Linked DNA regions of Homo sapiens: region 2 is linked to region 1. Evidence: fine-mapped expression QTL. A gene starts in region 1. The other region holds a variant in brackets. All regions are shown on one strand. Distances are from middle to middle.

Region 1 (2,500 bases):
GCGATCTTGTCTCACTGCAACCTCCGATTCCTGGGTTCAAGCAATCCCCCTGTGTCAGTCTCCTGAATAGCTGGGATTACAGGTGCCCATGACCACGCCCAGCTAATTTTTGTAGTTTTAGTGGAGACGGGGTTTCACCATGTTGGCCAGGCTGGTCTCGAACTCCTGACCTCAGGTAATCCACCCGCCTCCGCCTCCCAAAGTGGTGGAAGTACAGGCGTGAGGCACTGTGCCCGGCCCCTTTCTTTTCTTTCCTCTCTTTTCTTCCTTTTAGCTCTCTCTCTTTTTTTCAGACAGGGTCTTGCTCTGCAGTGATCAGGGCTCACTGCAGCCTCGAACCCCTGGGTTCAAGCCATCCTCCTGTCTCAGCCTCCCGAGTAGCTGGGACTACAGGCGCGTGTCACCATGCCCGGCTAATTTTTAAAATATTTTGCAGAGGCGAGGGTCTCCCTAAGTTGGTAGGGCGTGTCTCAAGCCTGGCCTCAAGCGATCCTCCCGCCTCGGCCTCCCTAATAGTATTGGGATTACAGGCGTGAGCCACCGCGCTAGGCTTGCTGAAATTATCTTTAAATAAGTTGTTAAAAGACCACCAACACATTGAACGGCTTTCTCTTGCTCCCTAGCTGCATGATATTGCTTCGAGTTTGTTTCGGTGTGAGCAATCTGAGTCGCCGGACCCTCTCGAGTCTGACTTTCACTCTGACAATCGGTCCGTGGCTTTACGAATCTGAATCGGAGTCCCCTTGATAGCTCCGCTGGGGAACAGCAAACTACGAGGTTCAAATGGTGGCTCTCGGGACTTAGTGAGGATCCAGGGATGTGGGCTTCCTAAAGCCCCGAACCTCCCACACTGCAGACTATCCCTCGCATAGCGAGAACAAGAGTAACAACCCCCTTACACCCCTCTGCTCCCGGGACCCACTGGCTGCCCGTCGCTGACGCCCCCTGGCCGCTGATTGGCTTCCCCTGACAGTGGGCGGAACGCGGCCCCGGATTGGATATCCATTCGCCGTCCCTCACCCGGCACCTGCGTGCACTCTCCGGCGTCCCAAGTGAGTGGAGGGGGGATCCCGACTCCAGTCCGGGGCCTTGGCCAGCGGAGCCGCGCTATTCGGAAGCGGGAATCCCACTCAGAGCCCGGGCCTGTAGGGGCGGGGCGTCCCGGGCACCCGGGATTGGGGCGTCTCCCGTCGTGCACCGGGGCACCGGCGACTCACCCGGAAGGAGAAGCCGTGATCTGGCTATATGGTGGGGCGCGGGCGGTGTCGCTGTGGGGAGCTGGTGCTGTTCTCAGGTGAGAGGGCGTGGGCGGGGCCTGGGGAGTGGGTGCTGCTCTCCTGTGAGGGGGCGTGGGCTTGAGCGTCAGTAGTGGCACTCGGGATGGTGGCATCGCTTTACATCCTAGGGAGGGACTCTCTTACCACCCGGGATTAAGGCAAGGGCTTGCTCGGGATCCAAGAAAGGAAACCCGGCTTTTCAGTTTACCTTCAAAGTGTATCTTTCACTTCCTACCCCCCAAGCTTAATCGGAAAGAAAGAAGGACCATGTGGACCTTTCGGTCCTAGTTTGTTGAGAATGGAGAAAGAGTGGCCGTAGTAAAAGACTCTGGGGACATTTACTTAAATGGCTAAGACTGGGGGCAATGGCGAGTATTTTACGTGGACACGGGAGACTTGGCGGTAGATTGTGGTCGCCTTTGTTACTTACCTTCCAAGTGAAAGGCGTACGATTAGAGATGGACAAAAAGATGGAGCATAACTGCTTGGTTGAGATCACACAGAGCTTGGTCAGAACTGGGAGCTTCCTCTGTTTAGTACCTGTGATATTTATAATTGGAGCGAGAGCTTTTTGAATTGCTTTCTGCCATCTGGCACTAAAGGCTCAAGATTGAGTAAGAAGGGACGGTAGTCTCAGTAGTTCCATCTACTTTTATCACCTGATTTGTTTCTTAACCTGTCTCTTGAAGTTGTTTAAATGGGAGAGAAAATAAATGGTGAGACTAAAGCCTTGCATTGTTACTATATTAGAAAGCTTTACGATGAATCTACTTTGTAAACAGCAAACAATCGGGTACTCACCAGAGCTACTGGTGCTGGTACAGGTGAAGAAAGTAAAGGAAACTTCAGATGTGGTTGAAAGGGCCCAGAAAATGTAGTTAACACTAAGTTATGTAACTAGCTATGGTCACTGACTCTAGCCTTATTTGGATGAAGTACAGATCCATCTCCCAGATCAGAGAACTAAAGTTAGGAACTTCCTGCTGCTTCTCCAGAGGCAGAACTGAGCTTTTTCTTTTGAGGAGTGGTATCTGTGGGGAGGAATCTAATGGAGAAGAGTGGTTGCTAGAAATTACTACTTGGTGTCTAGGTTTTTGTATTTGTTCCAGTGTTTATTTGTTTGTTTTTTGAGACAGGGTCTTGCTCTGTCGCCCAGGCTGGAGTGCAGTGGTGTGATCTTGGCTCATTGCAGACTCCGCCTCCTGGGTTCCAGCAATTCTCAT
Region 2 (3,020 bases), 57 kb after region 1:
ATAGATTTCCACCTTTCCCTTTATTCATTTTACCCTCCCATGAGCAGTGATAGTATTGGTGGCTGAGGATAGGGCAAGTGGGCAGTAGGGGCACAGACACCCTCCCTATATTTGCTTTTTTTCTACTTATTCCTGACTTACGAGCAATTTAAATAATAAAGGCACGGAGGGACAAAATCCCTATATGTCTCTGGAAGAGAATTTTGGTAGGAATCTTAAAGGGTACAAAAACAGAGGAGGGAGAGAACTATTTAGTTAAAACTCAGATATTGCAAACAAAAGTAAAAATGTCAACCATATAGAAATTCAGGCATGTTTTCTTCACACATAAAATTGTCTGTGTGTGCAGTAGACAACAGAGGGCAGCAAACAAGATAACTACTGTGAAAACATTCTGCCACAGAGTTGATAATATGTTTGGAAGAAAAATACTTTGGGAGAAATATGTTAGTTATTGAATAGACAAAGCATTCATTTTTGGAAATATTAAGTACATGAAATAATAGAGAAATATCAATCCCTGAAAAGTGAAAGTAGTTTTCCCAGAGGATATATTATGAATTTTCCATTTTAATGGAGTTGATTAATTACCCCAAGATTTTGACTAAACTCAGGAATGAAAGAATATTAACATCAATATTTTTCATGGATTTATATATGGTAGAGAAAACCATTTTTGTAAAAATAGATTCTAAAACCATAACAATATTTCTAAGTGGTAAGGAGACTAACAAGGTTATCTTGGTCTTTTCTGGCCTAGCAGATAGTCACTTTGGAGTACGGTTCCCTACTGTGTGCCTGGATATGGGATAGGTCCTAATATTGAGTGCCTTTTTGGTGTATACATAAAAAGTGATTTGACATTGGGTATATATGGGCCTGGGAGAACATCTGGAAAAAGATCTATTCTAAAAGCACAAAAGATCACAGGGAAAGCAAGAAGCTAGGAGAAAAACAGAAGCCTTCCAGGAAAAAAATAAAGATAGAAAAGGTCTTTGATATTAAAGGCCAAAAGAAGACAGAGTTCAGGAATCCAGGAGATGGTTTAGCTCAGCCCAAGAATAGGGAACTTCAGTCAGAAGTAGAACAGCTCCAAAAAAACAGGCAGAATGAAGGGCTAAAAACTGGGAAAAGTTTGAACTTGCTAGCTAGCTAGAAGTATTCTCTATTAAGGAAATCAGTGAGGGATAATTCCTTAGCTGGGCAAGGTGACTCCATATTGCAGACTTCCTGTTTAACACACATGTGATATGCATTTATGTGTATGTGTGCATGCAACTTCACTAATTCATTCTCATCATCCAACAGACATGTATACAGTACCTACTAAATGCCAGGGACTGTGTTAGATACTGGGAATCCCACATTGGCCACACATGAGCCCTCCTCTCAAGGGTACCTTCTAGTCGGGGAAGCACCATGGAAAAAACAGTTACACAAATGTTTATTTATGATTATGATATGTCTGTGAAGGAGAAGTTGAGGACGCTGTGTGTAATAGGGAATCTAACATAGTTTGAGGGGTCAGAAAAGGCTTTTCTGGCCAAGTGGGTGTTAAAGACCTTGAAGAGGGGAAGAGATAAGTTGGAGGAGGGCTTCATTCCTGAAGCTTGGCACCAGGAAGAGCTTAAAAGCCCAGAGTCTGCAGGGCTAGTCCAGCTTCTCCCTAAACCTGCCCAACTCATCCTATAAACAAGAGAATGCATGAGGAGACTTTGCTTTCTTTTCTTTTCTTTCTTTCTTTCTTTCTTTCTTTTTTTTTTTTTTGAGGCGAAGTTTTGCTCCTTTTGCCCAGGGTGGAGTGTAATGGCATGATCTCGGCTCACCACAACCTCTGCCTCCTGGGTTCAAGGGATTCTCCTGCCTCAGCCTCCCGGGTAGCTGGGATTACAGGCACGTGCCACCACGCCCAGCTAATTTTGTATTTTTAGTAGAGACGGGG[T/C]TTCTCCATGTTGGTCATGCTGGTCTTGAACTCCCGACCTCAGGTGATCCGCCCACCTCGGTCTCCTAAAGTGTTGGGATTACAGGCATGAACCACTGTGCCCGGCCGACTTTGATTTCTGTAGAGCAGAGAGAGGAACTGAGAGCCCAAGGGTGAGGCTTGCCTCTATGGGCTGGATTTAGATTCCTTTAGGCTTACACTACTCTGGCAGCCGTCTGAAATCAGAAATGGTGCAGCATTCTGACCATTTAATTAATTCAAAACATCCTAATTCTCATTTTAAGGACATTATTCCATCTAATTATTTTTTTTCCAGTCTGTCCATTTGGAATGAAAAACAAAAGAATAAAGCTTAATGCCAGCATTTCTCAATGTCTCTCCGAAAAACATAACTCTGCACTAAATAAAGCCTGGTAATTCAAAAGCAAAGCACTAATATATTCAGCATAAAACAGACAGAGGACCTAGAGCAATAATGACACCACTAATAACTAAAACAGTTATAACAATTAACAACAATTACAATGATAGAGAAGCTAATGGGTATGATCACTGCATTTAAATTGCTAGCAGAGCTGAGAAGGGCTTTTTCTAGAGAAAAAAAAGCAGCATCTTACTCTCTTTATCCTATGTAAGGGAAGCTAAACTCCAAGCAACCAAAATGTCATAAGAAGAATAGCAACAGAACAAGTTAAAAAAAAGTATTGGTTTCTTTTTTCTATTTATTGCAAAGCATTTGTCATTGCATGCCAGGTTCTTTACAACTAGTGACAGTCATTTCTCTTGTAACTGAGGCCAAGTTGGTGCTACTGATGATAGAGTCAATGGCTGAAAATTAGCCTGTGTGACGAGCAAAGTTTTAAGGTAAAAAGGACCAGGACATCTCTCTGCCTTTCTCCTTCCTTAGGGACAATAAAATCTGACTGTTCCTTCCACAGTTCAGCTTATGTTTGGGAGTCACTGGGTAGCGACAGAATTCAGGCTGTGATCAGGGAAAAGTGGCTAAAGGCAGGCCAGCATGTTATTTACATTTTCTTGATTACTAAAATGATCGTGTCAATAAGGCCTGGCATTGAGT

Evidence for each region. PIP is the estimated chance that this variant, and not a neighbour inherited with it, causes the effect.
Region 2: its variant is the best candidate, but not a certain one, in a credible set for the expression of SNX11 in whole blood (TOPMed, PIP 0.63).

What each region holds. Positions count from the first base shown.
Region 1 is chr17:48,106,545-48,109,044 of GRCh38, forward strand. It overlaps SNX11 (sorting nexin 11), which reads left to right and starts at 1,222. Exons shown (of 7, transcript NM_013323.3): 1 at 1,222-1,294. RefSeq lists a silencer at 1,228-1,387.
Region 2 is chr17:48,163,651-48,166,670 of GRCh38, forward strand. The region is part of intron 10 of SKAP1 (src kinase associated phosphoprotein 1); the gene reads right to left. Among named protein-coding and RNA genes, the nearest start is that of MIR1203, 8.6 kb to the left of the region's middle. The variant T/C (reference allele first, on the strand shown) is at 1,943.